Regions from separate parts of the Homo sapiens genome. Here regions 2, 3, 4 and 5 are each linked to region 1. The links come from fine-mapping of genetic effects on gene expression. A gene starts in region 1. Each other region holds a variant in brackets. All regions are shown on one strand. Distances are between the middles of the regions. Region 1 holds the start of DCT (dopachrome tautomerase). Region 2 holds the start of TRF-GAA1-5 (tRNA-Phe (anticodon GAA) 1-5). Region 3 has its middle 13 kb from the start of TRF-GAA1-5. Region 4 has its middle 21 kb from the start of DCT. Region 5 overlaps GPC6 (glypican 6).

Region 1 (5,105 bases):
GCTGGGATTACAGGTGCCCATCACCACACCTCGCTAATTTTTGTATTTTTAGTAGAGACAGGGTTTCACCATGTTGGCTAGGCTGGTGTTGAACTCCTGACCCGTCTTGGCCTCCCAAAGTGCTTGGCTCCCAAAGGCGTGAGCCACTGCGCTTGGCCAGCACTTTTTCATTGATTGACATAGAAATAATTGTTCTAGAAGTATTTTGGGGTTTTGAACAAAGAAGTTACTGTGTTAGTGTGGTTTTCAATCACGCTAACCACACCAGCAACCTGCTCCTCATTCGTCTAAAACACCATGATAATTTTGAGAGAAGGTCTATAGAAGCAAATGCTTAAAAAACTTAGAAAAGCTGGATAATATATATCCAATATGTTATTGAAATTTTTGTCATGATTAATACCCAGGGCAAAACCAGGACCTAGATATTCTTCTGAATGACAGAATTAAAAATATTACTACAAAATGATTATAAAGCCAGAACTATTTATTTATTTATTTATTTTTTTGAGACAGATCTCACTCTGTCACCCAGGCTGGAGTGCAGTGGTGTGATTTCTGCTCACTGCAACCTCTGCCTCCTGGGTTCAAGAGATTCTCCTGTCTCAGCCCCCAGAGTAGCTGGGATTACAGGTGCCTGCCACCACACCCAGATAATTTTTGTATTTTTAGTAGAGACAAGGTTTCACCATGTTGGCCAGGCTGGTCTCAAACTCCTGACCTCAAAGTGACCCACCCACTTCAGCCTTCCAAAGTGCTGGGATTACAGGCGTGAGCCACTGCACCAGGCCTAAAGCCAGAACTCTTAATGTGAAAAAAGAAATCTAATGTCTGGGCACTCATGGACATAAAGATGGCAACAATAGGCACTGGGGACTGCTAGAGAGGGGAGGGAGGGAGGGGTCAAAGGTTGAAAAACTACCCACTGGGTGCTTCGCACACTACCTGGGTGACAGGATCAATCATATCTCAAACCCTAGCACTGTGCAATATATCTATGTCACAAACCTGCACTTGTATCCCCAGGATCTAAAATAAAGTTGAAAGTTAAAATTAAAAAAAAAAATCGAATGTCATTCCTACACCAACATCACAGGCCTTTGTATGTTCCCTTAGTAATACCTATTCAACCCCTTATGAAGCTCAATGACCTATATCCTCCTATGTTCCAGCATCCTATGAGAAGAGAAGTAAAAAGTATTTTTAAAAGGAAAAAGTCTTCTGCAACCACCCAGCCTACAACAGTGTCCAAGGGCTTTCCTGAGGTTGCCACTTGTGTTTTTTGTATTTCAGTGGCCCCCTGCCAGGCTTTGAGTGTTTATTCCCGAAGGGCATATGGCTGCTGGAAACTGGAGGTGGGAAAGATTGAAGAGGATTTGAAAAAGCCCCAAAGAGCTAGAGGAATGAGAAATGCACAGAGATGTCAAAGCAACAGGTAATGAGAGAGACCAGAGTCTAAAGGAAGGACACTGAGCAAATTTTGTGATGTCCGGTTCAAGTCCAGAGAAGAGTGACAAAAAGCCATTGTTATCTAATAACAACCCCCCGCCCGCCCCCCCCACCCCCAGCTCCTCGAGAAAGCTCTGTCTTGCCACGTCTCGACAATTTTGTCAAAGTTACAACCTGGTCATAAGCTTTAATGAGAAACATGCACCCTGCTGAGGTCAGGAGTTCGGGACCAGCTTGGCCAACATGGTGAAACCCCGTCTCGAAATACAAAAATTAGCCAGGCATGATGGCGGGTGCCTGTAATCCCAGCTACTTGGGAGGCTGAGGCAGGAGAATCACTTGAACCCGGGAGATGGAGGTTGCAGTGAGCTGAGATAGCACCATTGCACTCCAGCCACGGTGACAAAGCGAGACTCCATCTCCAAAAAAAAGAGAGAGAGAGAGATCTGTTCAAATCATGAGAAATGCTGAGACCAGAACACCTGCCTTTGACTCCTGTCTTCCGAATGCCAAGCTTCACCCATCCCTTTTCAACAAGTGCAAACCCATTTCAGGAGAGGGCACCGAATCCATCTTGAAAGGACTTGCTCCGAGTTTCAAAGCTGACGCTTTTAAGCTCTTAAATTCCCCTTCCAACAAACAAGCCAATAGTATGTTGGCATGCATTCATATAAGCAGGCTTGGCCCACGCCATATTTATTTAGTCTTCATAACTAGATGTACTAGAGGGTGTGAAGAATAAACCAGCACATCAGCCTTATTGAATATGCTTCCGACCAAAACCATCATTGGTTTGCCTTTCAAAGCCTAATCTAAGAGTCTCTGTCAAGAGTCTCATCTCTTCCTTAGAAGGAGCTCTTTCCCCAGCTCTGGCCCTCCCCACCAAGCTTGGAGCATGGGCCTCACCTGTGCACTTGCAGGTCCGGTGGAAGAATTTTCTTGGCCACAGCTCACGGTCATCCTGGTTTCGTAGGATGTAGGGACCACTCCAGGGCCTTGTGTCGGCTCGCACCTCTGTGCACTGCCCCCGGCCTTGCTGAGAGCCACAGACATTGGCCGACTCTGCACCCAGGCGTGGGCAGCACTCCTTGTTCACTAGGCTGTCCACCGTCATGCAGACTCGGGGGAACTGACCCTGGGCTCCTGGCAGGATTTTGCAGCCCAAGCAACTGAGCAGAAACCCCCACCAAAGGGGGCTCATGGCTTTATAATTGGGAGAGCTCTCTCTCTCTCTTACTTTCCTTGTCTCTGTCGTACTTTTCTCCTTATCTTCTACTCTTTCAGTCTTTTCTTTTCAGTATTTTTTATTTTTCTTTGCTTTCTATTCCTTTCTTCTTAAAAAAATACCCACAAGAATCACAGAGGTTACATGTGTGCACATGTGTACATGAACGTGCACACACAATTTTATGTGATTCAAACAACTAACAGACTTAATTTCCTTAGAAGCGCCTCTAACAACCAAATTTAATGAGGGTAGCGCTTCTCACCATCTTCCCCCGTTAAGTCAGGCTTTGTCTAATTGAGTTAATTTACAGAGCACCCAGTCATACTACTTATTATGCTGGTATTTCTAAACCCTCTCCCTCCCTCCTTAGCTCTTGACTTTAATTGCCTTGAACTCAGTTCAAAAGCCAAACACCGTGCTGCTTTTATTCTCTCTGGCTTGCCAAGCCACGGGGCCTTGGGGGCTTGTGTAAGGGCTGGGAGAAGCCTTCATTAGGGGGATTAGTATTACAGAAACCCTCATCATTAGCACATGACCCAAAGTGCACAATAAAGGAGATCACTTCTGGCTTTATTTCAGGAGGGCAAAACCATCTTCTTTATCTGGGCTCATGTGCTCCAGCCAAACTTGTGACCTCAGACATCCTGGGGAGTCAGTAGATGCAGTGAGCTCTTCGTCAAAGACCCTTTACACAGAAGCTCACATTGCCAACTACAATGCACTCATGGCTGCTTTCTGACATGTGTGCAAAAAAGACCACAACAGGGGGTCATGCAACTTCAAAAATAAAGAAACATTTATGTAGAACCAGGGTACAAGGAATTGCTTTGTTCCACAATTGGGAATCCTCTTCCCTCCAAATAATAACTTACTCTTCTCCTATTCAGCACATCTACGCAGCAATTTTTTTTTAATTACATGAAGTAGCATGCCACCAGAAACTCACAATTGTCATTATCTGATTGTATGGAAGGCACTGGAACCATTTGGAATGAAGGCTTGCAAGCAAATCTTTTTGATTAGACTAAAGTGAAGCATGACTGAGCTTCAGTCTAGAAAGCAATGCCTCCTGGTGCTTCTGGAGAATGGTCAGGTCAGCAATGGTGGCCACCTGTCAGAACATCCATTTATTTTTTCACAGTGGAAACAGGACTGTCTTGGTAACTGTTTCACAGTGGAAACAGGACTTAGTGCCACAAGGATGCGAAACGGCTTCAGCTAGTTTCTAAGAATATACTTGAATGTAAAGACACATATTGTTATGTTTCAAAGCAAATTCCTAAGGTGAAACAATTATATAGGTATTCCCACCCCCTGTACCTCTGTGCCACCCCTTGATGTTAAGTTGTTGTGACTAATTAAATGGCAATTCTTATGTCTGACTCTACACCAATATCAGCCTGTACCACAGCCCTACTGAATCAGAATCTCTGAGGATGTTCCAGACACCAACCAACCTTTGTTAGAAAACATCTAGGCAATTCTAATGCTCAGCCAGAGTTGAGAATCACTGAATCAGAATACAGCAGAGCTCCAAAGGAAATATTGCATCAGCATCAGCTAAAAGAGACCATGTGCAATAGTTTCCTGAGGCTTCTGTAACAAATGACCACAAACTGGATGACTGAAAACAACAGAAATCTATTTTCTCACTGTTCTGAAGGCCAGAAGTCTAAAATGAAGGTGTTGGCAGGACTGGCGTGTGTCAGCCAGGCGGCTGCACTCTCCCTGGAGACTCTAGGCTAGAATCCTCCTTGCCTTTTCAAGCTTCTGGCAGCTGCTGTCAATCCTTGGCTTGAAACCGCAGCTCCAATGTCTGCCACAGCCCCATGGCCTTCTCCCCATCTGTCTGTGTTTTTCCTCCATGTCTGTTTCTTATAAGGACACTTATTGGATGTAGAGCCCACTCAGATAATCCAGGATGATCTCATCTCAAGATTCTTCACTCAATTACATCTGCAAAGAAGACTCTTTTTTCCAGACAAAGTCACATTCACAGGTTCTGAGACATGGACATATCTTTTGGGGAAGTCACCATTCAACCTAACACATCATGGGTGGGAAGAAACTTGGGGTTCTAAAATCGCAAAATCTCAGGGGTTTTTGAAACCTTTATTTTGGAGCTCATTCATTCATTCCATGTATATTTATTGACTGCCACTTCATGCCAGCATTGTGACACTTGGGAATTTTATTCCAGGTTTTTGTGAAGCCTTGGGGCTCCATAAATGTTAAGATAAAATTTCTTGGATGTTAAAACTGATGGAGTCAATAATTCTTATGTCAGAATGCCCCAGGTCGAAGTCCTAGGATCTCTTTTCTTTCATTTCCACACTTGCTAGATAACTCAGCTAGTCTGAGGCCTTAAATGCAGGCTATCATGACTTTCCAAAATTACAACTCTGACTTTGACCTCAGTTGTGAGCCC
Region 2 (5,105 bases), 69 kb after region 1:
AATGGGCCATGGTCAGACCATATATAAAAACAGAACTGTGACCATAACCTGCCCAGGAAACCAGCCCCTTATCTACAATAAACAGTCCAGCAAGCCCGTCTGCTAAAGCCAGACTTGCAAGAAGTCTGGGAAATAACAATCTGAGAAGCTAAACAATAACTTTTATAATAATTAATTCCAAATGACCAGGAATTGATTAATAACTGACAGCTTTCCTAGTTTTTGTCCTCATTTCCAACTTTAGGCCAACCACAAAAGGCGCCTTAAATAATCACATGGCTGCCGGCTCCCAGTTAGCTAACTCCAGCTTCCCAGACCAACAGCCTCCAATCAGGGCACACCTGAAGCTGTCCCTTGTGTCTGCTGTAAAGCTCTCCCACTCCCCTGCCTGCCTTTGAGTCTCTCCCAAATGCCAGTGATGGTGGCTGACTCCCTCGCTATAGCAAGCTCTGAATAAACAGCCTTTGCTTTCTCACATGGTGGTCTTCCTTCATTTCATATATATAAGCGGTGTGTGTATTTTTTTAATGCTGCCCACCTGCTTCCCGATCACTCCTCCCTGTCACAAGACCTGAAAAGCCTTCTCAACCAACAGGTGGAGGCCTGGCCTAACTCTTCCCCTTCACCCTCCCCTCCTCACACTTCTAATGACACAGATTTTCTCCTTGACCAAATGCTAGCCAGGCCTCTCTGAGCCCCCTTCTAGACCAGGCCTCAACCCCCTCAGAGTGCCTGCTTGAGAAAGCCCAAGACTGACAAAAGAATTCTATGCACCATCTGATGAAAGGCTTCTGGCACTTTCTTAGAGTACTTACTAAAAAGGGCTTACAATTGTGACTCCTTCCTCTGTGCCTTTGAGATGGCTGTGTATCTCCTACAAAGGCAATCAAGGACGTAAAAAACCATTCCTTTACAATGTAATCATCAGGAAGGATAGGGCCAGTGTCTCCCAGTCTCTGGAAGGACAGAATCCAGACTTTGATCATTGCCAGCTAGCAGACACAGCTGCCTAATCAGCATTTACATGCGTCAATCCTTTGTCAGTTTTCACCTTCCTGACTCTGCTGAAGCCCCACTGGTTCCTCTCCGTTAATCCCTCATTGTCCCTTAAAATGCCCAGTCACCTCTGTACAAATCAAAGTTCAGTTCACGCTGGACCCTCTTCCCTATTGCAATAGTACATTATGATTACCATCTGTCCTTACCACGTTACCTAGTGTCTGGTTTATCTTTGGTACTAACCAGGTGTGCGCCTCCATCCTTCCCCCACCCACACCAATAGCCAGTAGCTGGTCTTCCTGTTACAGTAGGGAGCTAGTCAGGCATGAGCACAGCAGGAGAGCCCCCCTCCCCACCAAGGAATGTCAGGAGACCAACAGGTGGTGGGCAAGTGGTTGTTACACTGTTTCCCTAAAACGGTAATTGGTCGCAGCCAGCCCTAGGGAAAGGCAGGCTCCAAACAGAAAAAACCTGAAACTGGTCATCATCAGTTTCCTGATAAGATCTTAGGAGTTGGGCGAGTAAGCTGAAGCATGCGCACTAAGAGGCAAAATGGCAGCATTTAACTGGTACATGACCTTCTAGGAACATTCAGCTGGTAAAGGAAGAATGCCTCAAGTGAGCATGGGTACAACGCCAGTAAACACACTGTGCATGCTTCCCTCCCAAGCACTAGCAGGCCACTGTGCATGCGACAGCCCACCCCAAGGGAAGAACTAGGGAAGAAGGGATGCAAGACCCCAGAAATGCCAGTGTATAAAACCCTAAGTCAGAGGTCAAACAGGGCTCTTGATCTCTCAATTTGCCCGCTTAGCCCTCTTCCAAGTGTACTTTACTTCCTTTCATTCCTGCTTCTAAACTTTTTTTTTTTAAGAGACAGTCTCACTCTGTTGCCCAGGCTGGAGCGCAGTGGCATAATCTCAGCTCACTGCAACTTCCACCTCCCCTGTTCAACGGATTCTCCTGCCTCAGCCTCCCGAGTAGCTGGGATTACAGGCTTGTACCACCACGCCCAGCTCATTTTTGTATTTTTAGTAGAGATG[G/C]GGTTTCACCATGTTGGCCAGGCTGGTCTCAAACTTCTGACCTCAAGTGATCCGCCCACCTCGGCCTGCCAAAGTGCTGGGATTACAGGCATGAGCCACCGTGCCTGACCCTGCTCTAAACTTTTTAAAAACTTTCACTCCCGCTGTAAAACTTGTGTTCATCTCTCACTCTGCCTTATGCCCTTCAGTCGAATTCTTTCTTCTGAGGAGGCAAGAATTGAGGTTGCTGCAGACCCGCATAGATTCACCATCACTAACATTACCTTGGGCAGAGTGCTCAGACCTCAGGTTGTCTGAAATGAAAGTCACTATCACCCCAGAACCTGCATCCTTTCCCTACTCTTTAGAAATGTGATAGCTGGTGGCACTCCTGTTAAATCTTTCCATACCTAAGAAATCTTGGCTGGGCACACTAGCTCATGCCTGTAATCCCAGCACTTTGGGAGGCCAAGGCGGGTGGATTACTTGAGGTCAGAAGTTCAAGACCAGCCTGGCCAACATAGCAAAAACCCATCTCTACAAAAAATGCAGAAATTAGCCGGGCATGGTGGCGGGTGCCTGTAATCCCAGCAACTCGAGAGGCTGAGGCAGGACACTCCCTTGAACCTGGGACACCACTGCACTCCAGCCTGGGCGTCAGAGTGAAACTCCGTCTCAAAAAAAAAAAAAAAAAAAAAAATATATATATATATATATATCTTCTCTGGGTGAGGACCCACTGCTCCATAGAGCCTTTTCTGGTGAGCCAGACAAAAACTTTTATTTCCCTCATACAAGTACCTGTATGTTTATGCACACCTGTCTTGACTACACATCTCAACAGCTTTTCACTTACAGTAACATTTAGGAGGTAGCAATGTTAGCTGTCTAACAGACATAGCTTATGCTTAATTCTTGCAACCCTGGAAAGGCTGTTATGTATAAAATGGGGATAATAATATGTACTTCATAAGGTTGTTATGAAGAGCAAATAATGCTGGCTCGTAGTGGGAGGTTAGGAATTAATGTCCAATTAGAGAATGAATGAATAAGAGAGAACACACAGTAGTTCATAAATATGAGTTTCCCTTCCCCCTCAAAACAGCAGAACCAGAAAACAAGCAAGACCTAAGCATACATCTCACAATGGTCCTTCATCTGCTGTCCAGCAACCCGCCACCTCACTAAACTGACTATTCTATTTTCCTACGACACAAATAGATAGATATTTCTTATTTTTAAAATTTAGATCTACATCCCTGCAACTTCTCCCCTTGGGTCCTGGCTCAGTTCCCACCAGCCATACAAGATAACATCAGGTGCCTGGGCCTCCATTTTCTTTCTAGGACACCCAGTTTGGCCTTGGGGTGGGCTCCCACAGGTAGCTGGGAAGCTGATGCCCCTGAGTACCCACGTCCACCCACACGTGAAAACAAAAAAAAATCTCAGAAAGTAATTTCGAGCACGGGTCAAAGTTCTATTTCACACTTGCAGGGGCAAGACAGCAAAAGGAAAAAGCTGGTTCACAGCAACTGTCTTAGGAAAGCAAGGCCTCTTTTAGAAACAGAAAGGAACGTCTAGACCCGTGGCTTGTTTAAACACCCGCTGCTAGGCCCCACTGCCAGAGCTGCCTATCCAGGGCCGAGAATGTGCATTTCTAAGTAGTTCTCAGGCGGTGCTGATGCTGCGGATCTGGGGACTGTACTTTGAGAACCACCGGTGCAGACCCTGGCCAACGTTCTTTAGTCTGATGCGTCGGGGAGCTGTAAAGCTGCCATCCTTCACCGGTGGGCAAGTAACCTGGTGGCGCCACCCCAGGGCCAGACCCAGGGCCGGCCTCGGTGCGCCTCTAGCCAGAAATAACCAGCACTGGGTTCCGCTCACCGGCAACGCCAGGTGGGGGCCATCTGACCACTCAACAGTTTTGCTTTTTCTTCAAATTCGGATACTTAGAAGGAATGCGATGAAATTGGGATGAAGGTGTTTTGCTGGCCCCGTGGACAGACCAGACCTCCTCCCATCGGAGCCTCGGGTCTCACACCAGCCCCCCAGGCGGCGCGCGGCCCCGTCTCGCCACCGCGGCCCGGGTCGTTCGCGTCTTCCGGCGCCGAGGGTGCCTCTGGGTCCCAGCACCAGGCTCCGTGGCGCGCACGCGCGGCAGCTTCTTCTAGCCCCGCCAGGAGACGGCCCAGAAGGGCTATGCGGCGCGGCCTCGCTCCTGGGGGTGGTTAGGAACGACTGTTTCATTTCCTCCTTCACCCTTCAAATCTCAGTTTTTGCTTGGGCTTGAAGGAATGGGCCAGGGTATCGTGGACGGAGAGTCTTACAAAATTTGAGTTTTTGAGGTCAGAATTTAAAAGTAGCTGCCGAAACCCGGGATCGAACCAGGGACCTTTAGATCTTCAGTCTAACGCTCTCCCAACTGAGCTATTTCGGCACGTTCTGGGTTGTCTCCTGAGTAAACTATCACTGAGCGCTTTGCGTCCAACTGGCTTGCTTGTCTTTTCCTGGTGATCATGTACAGCATTTCTTCCTTGTCCTGTTAAACGGTGTCGTCGGAATTCTTCCACCTCCCTCCTTCTACGCTGCCACTGGGCGCTGCACACGCGCCTTACTTTCTTAGATTGCTCTCGGCGCGCGCAGCCCGCACGGTCCAGGAGCTGGGTCCAGGCCCCCGATGGCGGCTCCTCGGGATGCTGGTTCCGTCCTCCCAGGGCCGGTCCCCGCGAGATCCGAAGCAGCGGGGTCGCCTCGGGGAGCTCCTGCCCAGGCCTGGTAGCCCCTTCCCTTCGATCTGCCCCTGCCTGTGACTATCCACATTCGTCACCTTGCTCCCCGAAAAGTTCCAGGCCCCAGGTGAGGAGCCGTGTAGGCCCAATACGATTGGATGAAGGAGTGTACGGGGCAGGAATCGTCAGACTGGCCTCTGGAGAGGAGTTTGCAGCCTCTCCGTGCTCCGGGCCCGGGAAATGTCCACCTTAATCATCACCTCTTTGCATGGAGCCTGACTGGCAAATAAATGCTGGGTGAGCTCACTAACGATGATTATTCAGTCAATGCTATTTCCCACACGAGTCAACAAAT
Region 3 (5,105 bases), 58 kb after region 1:
CAAGTCGAATGGAATGTACAATGAGTCAGGGGGCTGAGCCCTCATTACAGCTAAATGATGTGTTTCAGCTGATGACTTCATTGTATTAAGTTTTGCCAAGGCATTCAACTTAATTTTCTTAGACCACCAATTATTTCTTTGTCTTTTGCTTTTCACATTCATATAGTAATAAGTACAACTGGCACAAACAGGTGTGGGAACAAGAGCAGCTTTTGGCCAAGCATACAAGTCAACTACTGGGAGCAGAAGCCTGCTGGGATACTAGAGAGTGGCCATAGGCTTTCAGTGGACCCTGATCATAAGTCAGTTTGTTTGAAAGAAAAAATGGAAAGCACAGGCTAAATCAAGTTTCTGCTCTACTGCCATCGGCTGCCCTGGGCAGGGAGTGAGATCTTCAAAGAGCAATCTGAAGCAATATCTGAAAGTTACTAAAGTACCTTCTAGGGAGGGTGGGTCTAGCTAACTTAAACACTCTTGTTTGAATGCAGGAGGAAAATTTGAAGGCAAAAGATAATTTCCCCAACATCACAGCTGAGAGTTGCTATTAGCCGTAACATCCATCTTTCCCCAATGCCATCCAAATAAATGTGGTTTGTTTGTTTTAGAGACAAGGTCTTGCTAAGTTGCCCAGGCTGGTCTCAAACTCCTGGGTTCAAATTATCCTCCCACTTCAGCCTCCCAAATATCTGGGATTACAGGCAAGTGCCACTGCACCTGGCCCAAATGAATGTTGAGTAAATATTCTGCAAACATCACTTGAAGGGACTGCAGCCCACTTGATTAGGCTGTCTGGAATGTTCAAATATCTGGCCTTACTTGAGAAATTTGTTTTTAGCTTGTTAATATATACAATTTAGAACATATACTATATACCTGTTTTCATGCAGACTATTTTATATGTCCACATGTCCTCAGTTGTATGTATCACAGAGTTTCACGGTATATGGCATGTTTGACTAAATGATGGAAGAGGTTCAAGACTAGTCACCTGCATGAGTTGATTGCAAAGGAACGTTTGGCCTTTGGCTAAATAAGGAGGAAGCATTATTGCTGTAAGTATCAGGGCAATAATATGGAGAAATGACATGGAAATAGTATCTGTCACTCCACCCAGCCCAGTGGAATGAGGCTCTGCCAGAAACTGAAGGATAGTTTTCATATAAATCTGTCAGATAAGGATGCTTCAAGAGCTACCAGCAGCTCTCCTATGCAGATATGCAGAGCACAATACTCAGCACCCCTGTAAGCATTAATGTAGGCAGTGCCTGGAACTATAGCAGAACCCATGAGGCCAAGCAAGAAATGAGGGAAGCTAGTGGACCAGAGGTCCAATTGTGATGCTAGCAGTCTGAGATTTATTTGTGAAAATACATGCAACATTCCTGGGCAGGTGCAAATGGGCATCTTTCTAATTGCAGAGGTCGTCAATAAATAGTTGGAGCAAAGACAGAAAATTCTGAGCTATGGCCAGTACTGTGATTTCGCCTATACCCTCAGATTGGTAGGGCACAGTGAATCACAAAAAAACACTATTAATATATTGGTGCTTGTAAATGGCGTAGCCCCTCCCAGGTTTCCCTCTTCGAGGAAGAATGTCTCCTGCCACCCGTAGAGGCTCTATGGTTAACTAAAGTCAATCTAGCTCCTCATCAGCATCTTAAAGAGGTGTTCACAGGAAATAGCCTAACCCCTAATACCACAGAAAAGTTTGCTAGTGCTTCCAAATGATCTCAAGAACTAGCTCAGAAGCCAGTAAATGACAAAATCTTTCCAGATTTAGAAAAATTTAGCCTTTTATTTAAGGTCCAGGAGACAAAAGGTTGTGTTCAGAAATGTGGCTGCAACCAGGAGCCAATGGTCGATACAGTTTAGGACCAGGGTTGATAGATCCGACCCTCAAGGATGCCATGTACCAAAAGGCCTGGACCTGATGATTTAACATTGACATTGGACAGAGTAATGTTCTGGGAGCAGCCAGGGCCTGTGATGCCTCCAAGAAGCTGCTCTTCAAAGGGGACCTCCCAAACATGCCTGCTAAAGACCAACCCAGTGTAACCTAGTGATGTAGTCTGGATGTTTGTTCCCTCCAAATCTCATGTTTAAATGTGATCCCCAGTGTTGGAGGTGGGGCCTGGTGGGAGGTGTTTGGGTCTTGGGGTGGATCCCTCATGAATGGGTTGGTGCCCTCCCCATGGTCATGATTTAATATTCAGTCTATGAGTTTTCACATGAGAGCTGGTTGTTAAAAAGGGTCTGGTACCTCCTCTCTCTTGCTCCCTCTCCCGCTATGTGACACATCTGCCTCTGTGTCACCCTCTGCCATGAATAAAAGCTTCCTGGCTGGGCACGGTGGCTCACGCTTGTAATCCCAGCACTTTGGGAGGCCGAGATGGGTAGATCACCTGAGGCCAGGAGTTCGAGACCAGCCTGGCCAACATGGTGAAACCCCTTCTCTATTAAAAATACAAAAATTAGCGGAGGTGTAGTGGTGGGAGCTTGTAATCCCAGCTACTCTGAAGACTGAGGCAGGAGAATTGCTTGAACCCAGGAGGCAGAGGTTGCAGTGAGCCAAGATTGCGCCACTGCACTCCAACCTGGGCAA[CAGAG/C]AGAGACTCCACCTCAAAAGCAAAAACAAAAAAGCTTCCTGACACTTCACCAGAAGCTGAGCAGGTGTGGGTGCCATGTTTGCCCAGCCTGCAGAACCATGAACCAAATAAATCTATTTTCTTTATAAATTTCCCAGTGTCACGTGTTCCTTTATAGCAATGCAAAACAAGCTAACACACCTGGTAACCCTGTAAGAATAATTGAATTGGTAATTGGCGGATCAAGTAAAATGTTTCCATTATTAGGACATGTATCTATTTGTGCCAGACTGTTAGTTTCTTTAAATTTCTCTGAACACAAAATCTTTAGTTCTCAATCTCAGTTACATCTGAAAGGTTTCCCAAATCTCATTTCTCTAGAAAGTTCTTCAAACCTTCCATTTAAAAATAGCAGTCAGAACATCTAGTAACTTGAAAGATGGGGAGAATGCTGTTGTTGCTAAGACATTTTTTGAATGTCAACCATGTAATGTGTGACTATGATCCTGGTTCATAGGATTACAACCTAAATTAACCCAAGTTAGTGTCCTGGCAGATGGCCGTTCCTAAACTGCCTAAACTTGTCTCTGTCTCTGTTAGATTAAGACAATCCCATGATCTTTTTGAAGTACTAACAAAGACTTACAGCTTCCTGCTCTCCTGTGCTGCCATGTTGAAGAAGATGTAGAGCCTTTTTTATTGCTTTCTACAAATTATGCAAGTGAGAAAAAAAAACAAATAAAAACGAAAACACTGAAAATCATCCATAACCTTAAATTAACCATACAACCTTTTTAGTCCTGAAATAGTTGCTTACTGTTAAGTCAATAGATGTAAACAAGCAATTCTTGAGAACCTAAAATGTTTCTGGCACTTGGCTAGGTGACATAAGATGTGGAAAAGGAATAAGAACGTCAGTGTAGGCTCTCAGAAGAGTTGATTCTCATGTTAGGAAATATAATAAAAACAAGTACAGCCAAGGATTATGATGCAGTGGTGACCCACCATTGGCAGGATGAAAAAAGAGGAGAAGTACTCTTACTCATTCAACAAAAATGCATTGAGCACCTACTATGAGTTTTCTGCTAGTCATGTGAATCCTGACCTTAAGGAGATAATAGCAGCCAGTCAGAAAATCAGACCAATAAAATACACAACCAGAAGATGATATCCAGGTTATTGTGTGGATAAGGTATAGGGAGTACAGGATGGAAGAAACAGCTAAGTTTTCTCGGGCAGCCAAGATGAGATGTTGCGGAAAGTGACTCCTGAAAGAAGGGTGGAGCTTGTAGAGAGTGCTTACTGAGCCTGCAGGACCTGCCTGACTACATGCCAAGCACTCTTCATGGATTATCTTATTTAATTCTCACACTAGCCCTATAAAATAAGGATTTTTATTTTTCTCCATTTTACAGACAGGGAGACTGAAACAAAGAAGAGTTACGGAACTTCTGGATATTACACAGGCAGGGGGTGAGCCTGGAGCTCTGGCCCAGGCAGCCTGCCTCCAGAGGCTGTGCTTCCCACCACCCCTCCCCGCCAAGCCATATGTATACACATAGCCCCAATACCTTGGTATTAGCCTTCTCCCCTGCCTCCTTTTATACCACATCTCCCCCTCTTCTTCATCTATTGTAGTGAGAAAAGCAGATGGACTTGGTGCATTATCCGTCTTTGCTACAATGTAAGAATTCAAGGGTATAAACCATAGACCGTTGTGTTGAGCCCTGAACTTGGATTTTTCAGCCAGGTTCGTTCAGGTTATGGGCTGTCCACTGCCCATCACAAATACAACTGAGACCTCAGATTGAAAAAGAATGAAGTTGCATTCAGTCTCTCTTGTTGCAGTTTCTCTCTTTACCTGGGATGAAGATCATTTTCAGAAGCTTCCCCATCCTAACATGTTAGATAAACTGTCTAAGCTACTCAGCTGCTTCTCCTCCCTCACTCTTAGGATTTGTCTGTTTCTATCTGTGCGGTTTGGCTCTCCCTGTTGTCCTTACCCTTTTCCTTTTGTTCTAAGAGCCCAGCACTACTCTAGCTTCTAGGGGTTATCAGCCCACACCCCTCCAGCTATTCCAGGTCACACAACATCTTTCAGTCCCGACCACCACCAGGCGACACATTAACACCTGCATTTCCAAAGAACTCCAATAGACTTTTTATGACTTTTCACAAAATTCTTAGTCCCCTGCTTTGTTACTAGAACATGAAAATTCTTCCTGAAATCAAACCCACCTTTTGAGGGGCAGTAGAATTTTGCTATGAGGAAGAAAGCACACATTCAACACAGAGAATGAAAGTTGGGACAGGATCACATGCCCAGAGCATAGCAGACGGCAAGCTCTCAGGATGGTCAGAGTGGGAAGAGCTGGATATTAGCTTAAACTATGGAAAACTTTTCATGAAGAGGAAAAACCTGAGAGAACTTGAAAGGTAAGTAGGAATTAAGGTGACGCTAAAGGAATAAGATATGAAATAAACAGGCATCTGAGTGCATTTCTCTATGAGCAATTTACC
Region 4 (5,105 bases), 22 kb after region 1:
TGAGCAGAAAATCTTTAGGAGCTGTTATGGACTGAATATTTGCATCCCCTCTCCCTGCTCCAGATTCATACTGATGCCCTAATCCCAATGGGATAGCATTAGGAGGTGGAGCCTTTGGGAAATGATAAGGTCACAAGGGTGGAGCCCTCATGAATGGGGTTAGTGCCCTAATAAGAAAAGGCCAGAGAGAGCTTTCCTCTATAAACCAGGAAGAGGGCCTTCACCAGGAACCTGACCCAGCTAGCACACTAAACTCAACTTCCAGCTTCCAGACAGAACTGTGAGAAATCAACACTTGTTGTTGAAGCCACCCAGTTTACAGTAATTTGTTACAGCAGCCTGAACTATGACAGGAGCTGTGTACATTTGAGAGGTGAAGCCAACTGGACTTCCTGGGTCGAGTGGGGACTTGGAGAACTTTTCTGTCTAGCTAGAGGATTGTAAATGCACCAATCAGTGCTCTGTGTCTAGCTAAAGGATTGTAAATGTATCAATCAGCACTCTGTAAAAACACACCAATCATTGCTCTATGTCTAGCTAAAGGATTGTAAATGCACCAGTCAGCACTCTGTAAAAACACACCAATCATTGCTCTGTGTCCAGCTAAAGGATTGTAAATGCGCCAGTCAGCACTCTGTAAAATGGACCAATCAGCACTCTGTAAAATGGACCAATCAGCAGGAAGTGGGTGGGGCCAAATAAGGGAATAAAAGCTGGCCACCCCAGCCAGCAGTGGCACCCCATTCGGGTCCCCTTCCACACTGTGGAAGCTTTGTTCTTTCGCTTTTCACAATAAATCTTGCTGTTGCTCACTCTTTGGGTCCAAACCACCTGTAAGAGCTGTAACACTGGCTGCAGAGGTCTGCAGCTTCATTCTTGAAGTCAGCGAGACCACAAACCCACCAGAAGGAAGAAACTCCAGACACACCATCTTTAAGAGCTGTAACACTCACCGTGAAGGTCTGCGGCTTCATTTTTGAAGGCAGTGAGACCAAGAACCCACCAGAAGGAACCAATTCCAGACACACATTTAGCTTCCTGATTAAAACTTGGCATAAATATTTAGCATAAAGAAGACTAAAAGCATAAAGATATATGCTCCCATTCCCAAAGCAATAAAAGGACCAAAGGAGTGTGCATGAGAGTGAGTGTGTGTGTGTGTGTGCGTTCTCTCCAAAGCACCAAGCAGTGGCTGTTGATGGCAGTATAAAAGAATAATTTTCTCTTCAGGATGTTCAAAAGCAAACCTGGCAGCATGAATTAGATGGCCTAATTTTAAACATACAAAACACCTCTAGTTCTTAATGAACAAATAAGCAAAGTGCACCATCGGTGGCCTAGACACCATTTCAGTTTTACACTGGAATCAATAAGTTAGGAATGATTTGACTCCCAGAGCTAGCCTCAAGTCCAAGCCATGGAGAATATTAAACTGACCTCCCCTCATGACTCTGGCCAACCCTGTGTTCCAGCCCTTCACTCTCTCCATAGGAGAGGGCTGAACCCCCACCATGCTCTAACCGAAAGCACAGCTGGCCTTCCCTCTTCTCCTCAGCTTTATTGAGGTTATAACTGACAAACAAATATTGTATATATTTAAGGCATACAATAGGAAGTTTTAATATACCTATATGTTGTGAAATGATAATCAAGCTAATTAACATATCCATAACATATAGTTACCTTTTTTGTGTGTGAGAGAACAATTAAGATCTATTCTTTGGGCAAATTTCAAGTATACAATAGAGTATAGTTAAGTATAGTCACCGGGCTATACACTAGATCTCCAGAGCTTATTCATCCTACACATCTGAAGCTTTTACCCTTTCATCAACATCTCCCCATTTCCCTCACTTCCCATCCCTGACAACAACCTGTATTAGTCTGTTCTCATGCTGCCAACAAAGACATAGCCGAGACTGGGTAATTTATAAAGAAAAAGAGGTTTAATGGACTCACAGTTCCACGTGGCTGGGGAGGCCTCACAATCATGGCAGCAGGCAAGAGAGAAAATGAGAGCCAACAACAGGGGGAGCCCCTTAGAAAATCATCAAATCTCGTGAGACTTATTCACTACCATGAAAACAGTATGGGAGAAACCACTCCCATGATTCAATTATCTCCCACCTGGTCCCTCCCACAACATGTGGGAATTATGGGAGCTATAATTCAAAATGAGATTTGGGTGGGGATACAACCAAACCATATCACTACCATTCTGCTCTCTGCTTCTAAGAGTTTGATGTTTTTAGAACCCATATATAAGTGAGATCATGCAGATTTTGTCTGTCTATGCCTGGCTTATCTCACTTAGCATAATGTCATCCAGAGTCATCCATCCTGTTGCAAATGACAGAATCTCCTTGCTTTTAAGGATGAATAATATCCCATTGTGTACCACATTTTCTTTGTCCATTCAACCGTTTATGGACACTTAGCTTGTTTCCTTTTCTTGGCTATTAGAATAATGCTGCAGTAAACATTGCTCTTCACTTTGTAAATATATTTTCATTTTAAAAAATCATTCAGATAGGCAAACGGAACAAAAGCAGAATAGCACAATGCACCACTCTGTGACAACCCCATTAACATTTG[G/A]TGACGATCCTTCCAGACTTTTCTACCACTGCCATCCTCACACAGTGATTTTTAGTTTCTTTTTTTTCTAAATAATTGTTCTTTTATAGATTTTAAAAGAATTTGGCACTTTGGGAGGCTGAGGCGGGCAGATCACGAGGTCAGCAGATAGAGACCATCCTGGCTAACATGGTGAAACCCCATCTCTACTAAAAATACAAAAAAAAATTAGCTGGGCGTGGTGGCGGGCACCTGCAGTCCCAGCTACTCAGGAGGCTGAGGCAGGAGAATGGCGTGAACCCGGGAGGCGGAGCTTGCAGTGAACGGAGATCGCACCACTGCACTCCAGCCTGGGTGACAGAGCAAGACTCCGTCTCAAATAAATAAATAAATTAATTAATTAAAAATAAATAAAAGAATTTGGAAATGTTCATCTCTCTGAGCATTTATTTTCATTGTTTATAAAAAGTGGATGGTGTTCATAATACCTCTCTCTGATCAGGCTGTCGGAAAAATTAAAGAAGTTAGTGCCTCTAGTACATAAAAAGTAAGTTGTCCTTTCTAGTCACCATCTGTTCCTCCTTTCTACTTTCCTTCCTTTTTGACTTATTCCTTGAACAAATGTTTATTAAGCACCTACTGTATGCCTGGCCCTGCACTAGGCACCAGGCTCACAAGGATGGGGAAGAAGACAGCCATGGATCTTGCAGTCACGGTACTTATGCAGAGACAAAGACAGAGACAGAGAGAGAGAGAGAGAGAAAGGAGAGAGAGGAGAGAGAGAGAATGAGAACAGGCTTGCAGAAACTCCTGGCAAGACCACCAAACCTGCGAGAGTGAGGGAGGGTGTCCCAAGCAGAGGGCACAGCATTACAAAAGCCAAATCATCACAATGTGGCGCACTAGGTGCAAGAAGGGAAGAGTTCATGAGGGACAAGGCTGCAGATTGAGCAGAGACCATGTCAGGAAAGTCCTCATGTTTCAGCTTAAGGAAGCTGAAGGCAGCCCAAAGTTCGCTATCTTGTAGGTATTATTGTCTCCCTCACTCTGCCCTTGCTGGGTCTCCCACTGTTTCCATAGCCTCAGCCCCTACTTCTGAGGCTCTGCTGAGGGTGCCTTCACTGTTCCATAGCCCCAGCCCCCACTTCTGAGGCTCTGCTGAGGGTGCCTTCACTGTTCCATAGCCCCAGCCCCTACTTCTGAGGCTCTGCTGAGGGTGCCTTCACTGTTCCATAGCCCCAGCCCCCACTTCTGAGGCTCTGCTGAGGGTGCCTTCACTGTTCCATAGCCCCAGCCCCTACTTCTGAGGCTCTGCTGAGGGTGCCTTCACTGTTCCATAGCCCCAGCCCCCACTTCTGAGGCTCTGCTGAGGGTGCCTTCACTGTTCCATAGCCCTCCCTGCTGTCCCCCTCATCCCATGAATTTTGCCCCTTTCTCTCACCATCATGTTCTTCTGTTGCCTCTGCCATTTCCAGTTGATTCTGTGGTGGGGAAGGACACGGACCTTCCTCCAGCAGGTATTGCCATAGTTCTCGGCTTACTTTCCCTGCCAGACTCTTTGGGAGAGTGGCCTGAGCTCCCAGCCTCCACCTGCTCTTTTTCCATTTAATCCTTAACTATTGCACCTGCGTTCAGTCATCAGCCCTCAACACTCAGCTGCGAGGAGCTGGTGAACTTGTGATTACACCCAGCAGGCATCTGGCCAGTCCTTCGCTTGCTTGGCCTCTTTGTAGCTTTCTGACCCCCTCCTCTCCTTTCTTGGTTCACCCCTTTCCCTCAGCTTCTAGGTACCTCATTCTCCTTGTGTCCTCCTTTTTTTCTTCATTTTCCTCAGTCATCTTTATAAATCTTTCTCGTCTACTAGCCCTTCAACGTGTGGCTGTCCTTTCCTCTCCTCGCTGCACTCTCTCCGAAATCTGTATCTCCAGACCACATCTGCTCATGCAGACAAATCCTCTGACTTCCAGCCACTGTGAGCCTGCCACCCCAGGTCCCCACCTTTCTGTGACTCAGTGAGGCTTCCCAAGTCAGGCTCATTGCAAGGAAAACCTGGTTTAACTAGTAAAGAGGTGGGTTATAAAATATTGTTAGAAACACCGTGGTGGTTTAAATAATGTCTGCCAAAATGATGTGCTCGAGACCTAAGCCCTGGGACCTGTGAATGTCACTTTATTTGGAAATAAAGTCTTTGAAAATACAGTTAGGTTGGGTGCGGTGGCTCATGCCTATAATCCCAGCACTTTGGGAGGCCAAGGGGGCATGGATTGCTTGAGTCCAGGAGTTCAACGCCAGCCTGGGAAACATAGCAAAAACCCCATCTCTACTAAAAATACAAAAAATTAGCTGGGCATGGTGGTGCATGCCTGTAGTCCCAGCTACTCAGGAAGCTGAGGTAGGAGGATTGCCTGAGCCTGGGAGGTCGAGGCTGCAGTGAGCCAAGATCACGCCACTGCACTGCAGCTAGGGTGACAGAGACCCCATTTCAAAAAAAGGAGGGAAGGGAAGGAGAGGAGAGGGGAGGGGAGGTGGGG
Region 5 (5,105 bases), 330 kb before region 1:
GAGACGGGTTCACCATGTTGGTCAAGATGGTCTCGATCTCTTGACCTCATGATCCGCCTGCCTCGGCCTCCCAAAGTGCTGGGATTACAGACGTGAGCCACCATGCCCAGCCAGATGGCTGGCTACCTTTTAATGAAAAAAAAAAAGATATATAAAAACAACAAAATATAATTAATATTTCTCATTAGTTTATTTTCAAGATTAGGTGAGATTGTCTCCCTTTGTAGTACTTTGTAGGAAGTTTAGCTGTGTTATTTTTCGTTGGACTTTTTATTACCAGCAAAAAGAGAAATGGTTTAGTGTGAGAGAATCATTCATAGGTTTTATTTCAGTTTTAATTCAGACTTATTTGAAGGTTTTGACAGAGAGTATTTCTATATAGGCAGTGTTATCTTTCCAAAGTATTTGATTTCTAGAATCTAGATTTTTAATATGATAGTCAAAAATCATATTAAATTTTTTGTCACTCTTTAGAATCATGACATTCTTCTCAGATACCTGATTATTAACTTTGTATTATGAAATCAGAAAATGCAGAAAGATGCCATTTATGTGGTTCCCATTCCAGCCTGAAAGAGAGTATAAAGGGATAGCAGCTGGGCACAGTGGCTCATGCCTATAATCCCTGCACTTTGGAGGCCAAGGTGGGTGGATCGTTTGAGCCCACAAGTTTGAAATGAGACTGGGCAACATGGCAAAACCCCATCTTTACAAAAAAATACAAAAATTAGCCAGGCGTGCACCTGTAGTCCCAGCTACCTGGGAGGCTAAGATGGGAGAATTGCTTGAGCAATTCTGAGCCTGGGAAGTCCAGGCTGCAGTTAGCCATGATCACTCCACTACACTCCAGCCTGGGTGACAGTGAGATCTTCTCAAAAATTAATAAATAAATAAAATTATAGCAATTGAAAGTAAGGCTAACTTGATCTGGACATCAGCGATTGTCACGTGGTTTCAACACATTATAGCTTTATAGGCGCATATTTTGTTTTCACTGAAGCGAAGTTGTTAAACGTTTGATTTTGTCCTAATGGTGAAAAGAAGACGTTTCCTGAAGGAGACAGGATTGCATTATCATTACAAAAGTATCCAGCCTCTGTCGCACACTCTTTTTTAATAGCGCTGTTGTCCTATTTGCATATGTAAGAAAAAGACTGAGAGTCACCCAGCAGCAAGCAAGTACCTGTAACCACAGAGGGCAGGGTCTGTAACATCAGGGTTGAAATGGAGACCATATTGTTTTTTAATAAAAGAGTGAACAGTCATTATCTTTTTCCAATTCATGACCCCAAAATATACGCAGTGTGGATTTACTTCCATGAATGGTCCATGATGGCTGCTGTCCATTCGTACAACCTGGCCTCTACTCTTTGCCTCTTAGGTGCTTTTAAAACACACACACACACACACACACACACACACACACACACACCAGAAATGGAACACCCATTTTTCAAGACTAATAATTCCAAGCTTATCTGTTCAGTTCTTAGTTCCTTTGTAGGAAAAGATCATTCTTTGGGAGTGTGTGTGTATGTGTGTGTGTGTGTGTGTGTGTGTGTATAAGACAGAGAGAGAGAGGGATATCTGTGTGCAAACACTAGTTTAACTAAAGGATATACTTTTATTTTACAAAGACTTGTCTAAAATACCTGTTCCTGACATGCAAACAAAAATAGATAATTTGTTCTTTTATTCCTAAATCTATTTAATTTGGTGTAATTCAGAGTGATCTTTGAGGATAGAAAGATAATGCCCAACTGAAGTTAATATTCTTACTGCCTGGAATAAGAATAAAGAATTTTAGCAGTTCTTAAAATATGGAGCAGAGCATTAGAATACCTGCTTTTATGAAAAATTTTATACATTTAAATTTATATAATGAAAATCTTTAGGAACCAGGCCCTAGTTAAACAGGGGAATCAAATATTTATATTACTAAAGTTATTAACAAAACTTTGGAGACCTTATTGCTTATGGGCAAAAGCACAGAGTTTGAAATATTGATTAGAGAGTAAGTTCTTTAGGAGTCCTAGATTTTATTTTTTCTTGCTTACTGCCTAGAGCAATGCCTAGCACCTAGCAAACACTCAACAAATATTTATTAAATGACTGGATGGATGGGTGGATGGATGGATGGATGGATGGATGGATGGATGGACGGATGATGAATGGATGGATGGATAAAATATATTAAAATCTATACTTGGCCATTTACCTAACATTCTATATAAAGCACCTTCTACATGGTAAGACTCATTATTGCATTTGTTGTCATTATTTTTTACATTAGTATAATGTTTTGACTTTATTGAAACTTATCAATTTAGGGTCAAATTATATCCTTATCCATTAGGCCTTTTCCAATAGGCCAATGGTAAAGTGTCCAAATAATTTTATTTTAGAATAAGTAGGAATGTCAGCAGTCATATAGCCTAGCTACTTCAATATATTGATATTTGTTTGGGAATTAAAAACCAAAGAGATTAACTGATTTGCTTAAAGTCTCATATGTGTACCCCCAGAATCTAAAATAAAAGTTGAAAAAGAAAAAAAATGGTAGCATGAGAAGTGTAAGCTTTGTATATATGAGAAGTTATGTCCAGATGATTCTACATTAAGTAACTTACTCATTAATTCAGTAAACTGTTATGACGTGTTCCCATAAATGTGTGAACTTTTCCAAGTATGGGGGAATTCAAAGATGAGCGGACCCTAAGCTCTAGGAGATACTGATTAAAGGAGTCATACTTATAAATAAGTGAATATGTAATTTAACAGAAGGGAACATGTGTTATGGTGAATGTATAAACAAAAGGTTGAGTGAACATGAAGCATGAAGCAACTAACCCAATCTGGAGGTTTGGGTAGAGAAAATCAGTATTAAGCTGCAACTGGACAGGTGACAGGAGGATCAAATGGACTTCTCTGTGTCTGCAATGAAAGAAGTCTGAGCTAAGATTTTATTTAGAACTTATTAAATGCTCATAAAAGGATCAGATGAATAATTTAAATGAGCAAGTAACCAATGACATTCATTCAAAACTGC[G/A]TAAACTTATGCAAGAATGCATGTTTTCTGATATTTCTGCTTTGTGGAAGCTCGCAGTGTGATCCATAATCATGTCACATGCTATTTTCACCTTTGATACTGTGAGATCCTTGAAGGTGGAGTCTTCATGTTATCCACCTTTGTATCCTGAACACTCAGCAGGGTGCCTGGTGCATTGTAGATGTGCAATATATGTTGTTCTGAATTGACTTACACCCACCAACCACTATATTAAAAATAGAAAATAAAAGAAAAAAAAACAAGTTGTGTGACTTCCTCTAGACACAGTTGTAATTTACTATCTAGGACAGTCTCACCAATCAAGTATTTATCTCCAGACCTTGAGAAGATAATTTACCTTCAACAATTATTATTAATACCTTTTACCAACTTGGGACTATGGCAAAATTGAACTTATGAAAAATGCCTGTCTTTTTTCATCCTTGGACCAATTATAGCGTTCAAAAACAATCTTTTTCAGGTTTCCAGATAGCAGTGTTTTTCAAATCTCAGGTTGCAAACATTGAATCATTTTATCAATAATGTGCAAGATAGAGACATGTCCAAGGTTACTGAACCAGGATCATAAATCAACTCCTTGATGACATACCTCACAAGATTTAAAAAGAGAGATCATATAACACTTTGCAGATGGAAAGTCCCATACCAGTTGTTGTATATCAAAAGTGATACCAAAAGGCAATTTCTTAGAAATATATTAATTATGTGATTGACCAGATCCGAAAGCATTTAGATAACTTGGGGATAAAATGAGCGTTGATAATTATTTTAACATTACATTCTAGCAATGCATGTTTGAATTTGCTGAATAAAGAAATAGGTTTATATATTTCCACTGTTAACAGAAAAGCAATAAAATACTGCAAGGGAATTTTTCATTTGTTCTTGAAATCTGCTTCTAATGTTCATTTCACTCCCACTAAAGGCAGGTTATTACCTTGGATTTCCTAAAATCAGTGTATGCTTTAAAAGTGAATATTGAGAATTGTGGGTACTACTAAATTTAAAATACAGAATGACCAATGCCAGATGACCCTGACTAAAATAAACTAGAAAATTGAAGTGATTATAAAGATCATTTGCAGGTCAAAAAATAATTTCCCCCTCTTAGCCTCTTAAGTCCTTCATTTTCCTATCTCCTGATTCTGTCTTTCCTATCTCAACTCTCCTTATTTTCTTAATTCTTTGCACATAGAAAGATTTTGCTTTTCCTGTCACCTCTGTTAGATGCATATACGGGTACTCCAAACACCTTGCTTGATAATTTCAGCTTGGCATCATCATTACAGGATGTTAGGCTCTATAGCCTGGGTCAAATCTCAGGGCTACCACTCACTAGCTGAATGAGCTTTAGCAAGTTATCTCAATGCTCTAAGCCTCCATTTTCTCATAAATAAAGTATGAGTTGTAGCATTGTTTTGAAGGTTGAGTAAGATGATGCATATACCATGCTTACCAAACTTAAAATAAGCATAAACTGTTGTTGTTATCATGATTAACCAATGCCTCTTCCTTCTGGTTTAGTGTAAAAAGTGTGGCACACTGAACTGACACTGGACCAAAGATCAGATCACTTACCCTGAGGCCCTGGCTCTGTGACCCTGGGCAAGTCATTTATTCCAGAACTCTGGTTGTCTCATCTGTAAGCTGGGAGGCATAGACAACACTACATTAAAGAGCCCTTCCACATGTGTTCTAAGTGAATACATGCTCCACATTTTTACTCATAACATTCTTGTAGATCACTGGAATTGTACTCATTTATCATAAAAGTTATATAAGATATAGGAAAAAAAGTGGACCCATGAAACCTGGTCATGTGGTCAGAGCCAAAGAGAATCCAGTTTGATGTAAAGTTATTTTACTCAAGTACTCTGTGGCAGGGATTCTGCTGAGGTAGAGTATTTGAGCAGAGCACCTTGAGACCAATGTCACAGAAAATATTCCAGCAAATAATTAATGGTGTGTGTATATATATTGCCAGCTACCCTGCTGGAGCCCAGCAATCTCTCAGAGGAGATTAGTGGTCCTTACC

Evidence for each region. PIP is the estimated chance that this variant, and not a neighbour inherited with it, causes the effect.
Region 2: its variant is the best candidate, but not a certain one, in a credible set for the expression of DCT in thyroid (GTEx, PIP 0.86).
Region 3: its variant is the best candidate, but not a certain one, in a credible set for the expression of DCT in tibial nerve (GTEx, PIP 0.60).
Region 4: its variant is the best candidate, but not a certain one, in a credible set for the expression of DCT in T cells (TOPMed, PIP 0.63).
Region 5: its variant is the best candidate, but not a certain one, in a credible set for the expression of DCT in cerebellum (GTEx, PIP 0.55).

Annotation. Positions count from the first base shown.
Region 1 is chr13:94,476,606-94,481,710 of GRCh38, forward strand. It overlaps DCT (dopachrome tautomerase), which reads right to left and starts at 3,077. Exons shown (of 8, transcript NM_001922.5): 1 at 2,356-3,077. The coding sequence starts at 2,650.
Region 2 is chr13:94,545,265-94,550,369 of GRCh38, forward strand. It overlaps TRF-GAA1-5 (tRNA-Phe (anticodon GAA) 1-5), which reads right to left and starts at 4,458; the gene lies at 4,386-4,458. It overlaps LOC124903191 (a long non-coding RNA gene), which reads left to right and starts at 3,484. Exons shown (of 2, transcript XR_007063836.1): 1 at 3,484-5,047. It also overlaps a transcript of DCT not described here. RefSeq lists a silencer at 4,017-4,246 and enhancers at 4,779-5,105, 4,817-4,996. The variant G/C (reference allele first, on the strand shown) is at 2,043.
Region 3 is chr13:94,534,323-94,539,427 of GRCh38, forward strand. It overlaps a transcript of DCT not described here. Among named protein-coding and RNA genes, the nearest start is that of TRF-GAA1-5, 13 kb to the right of the region's middle. The variant CAGAG/C (reference allele first, on the strand shown) is at 2,603.
Region 4 is chr13:94,498,318-94,503,422 of GRCh38, forward strand. It overlaps a transcript of DCT not described here. Among named protein-coding and RNA genes, the nearest start is that of DCT, 21 kb to the left of the region's middle. The variant G/A (reference allele first, on the strand shown) is at 2,596.
Region 5 is chr13:94,143,013-94,148,117 of GRCh38, forward strand. The region is part of intron 4 of GPC6 (glypican 6); the gene reads left to right. Among named protein-coding and RNA genes, the nearest start is that of GPC6-AS1, 42 kb to the right of the region's middle. RefSeq lists an enhancer at 533-1,466. The variant G/A (reference allele first, on the strand shown) is at 3,050.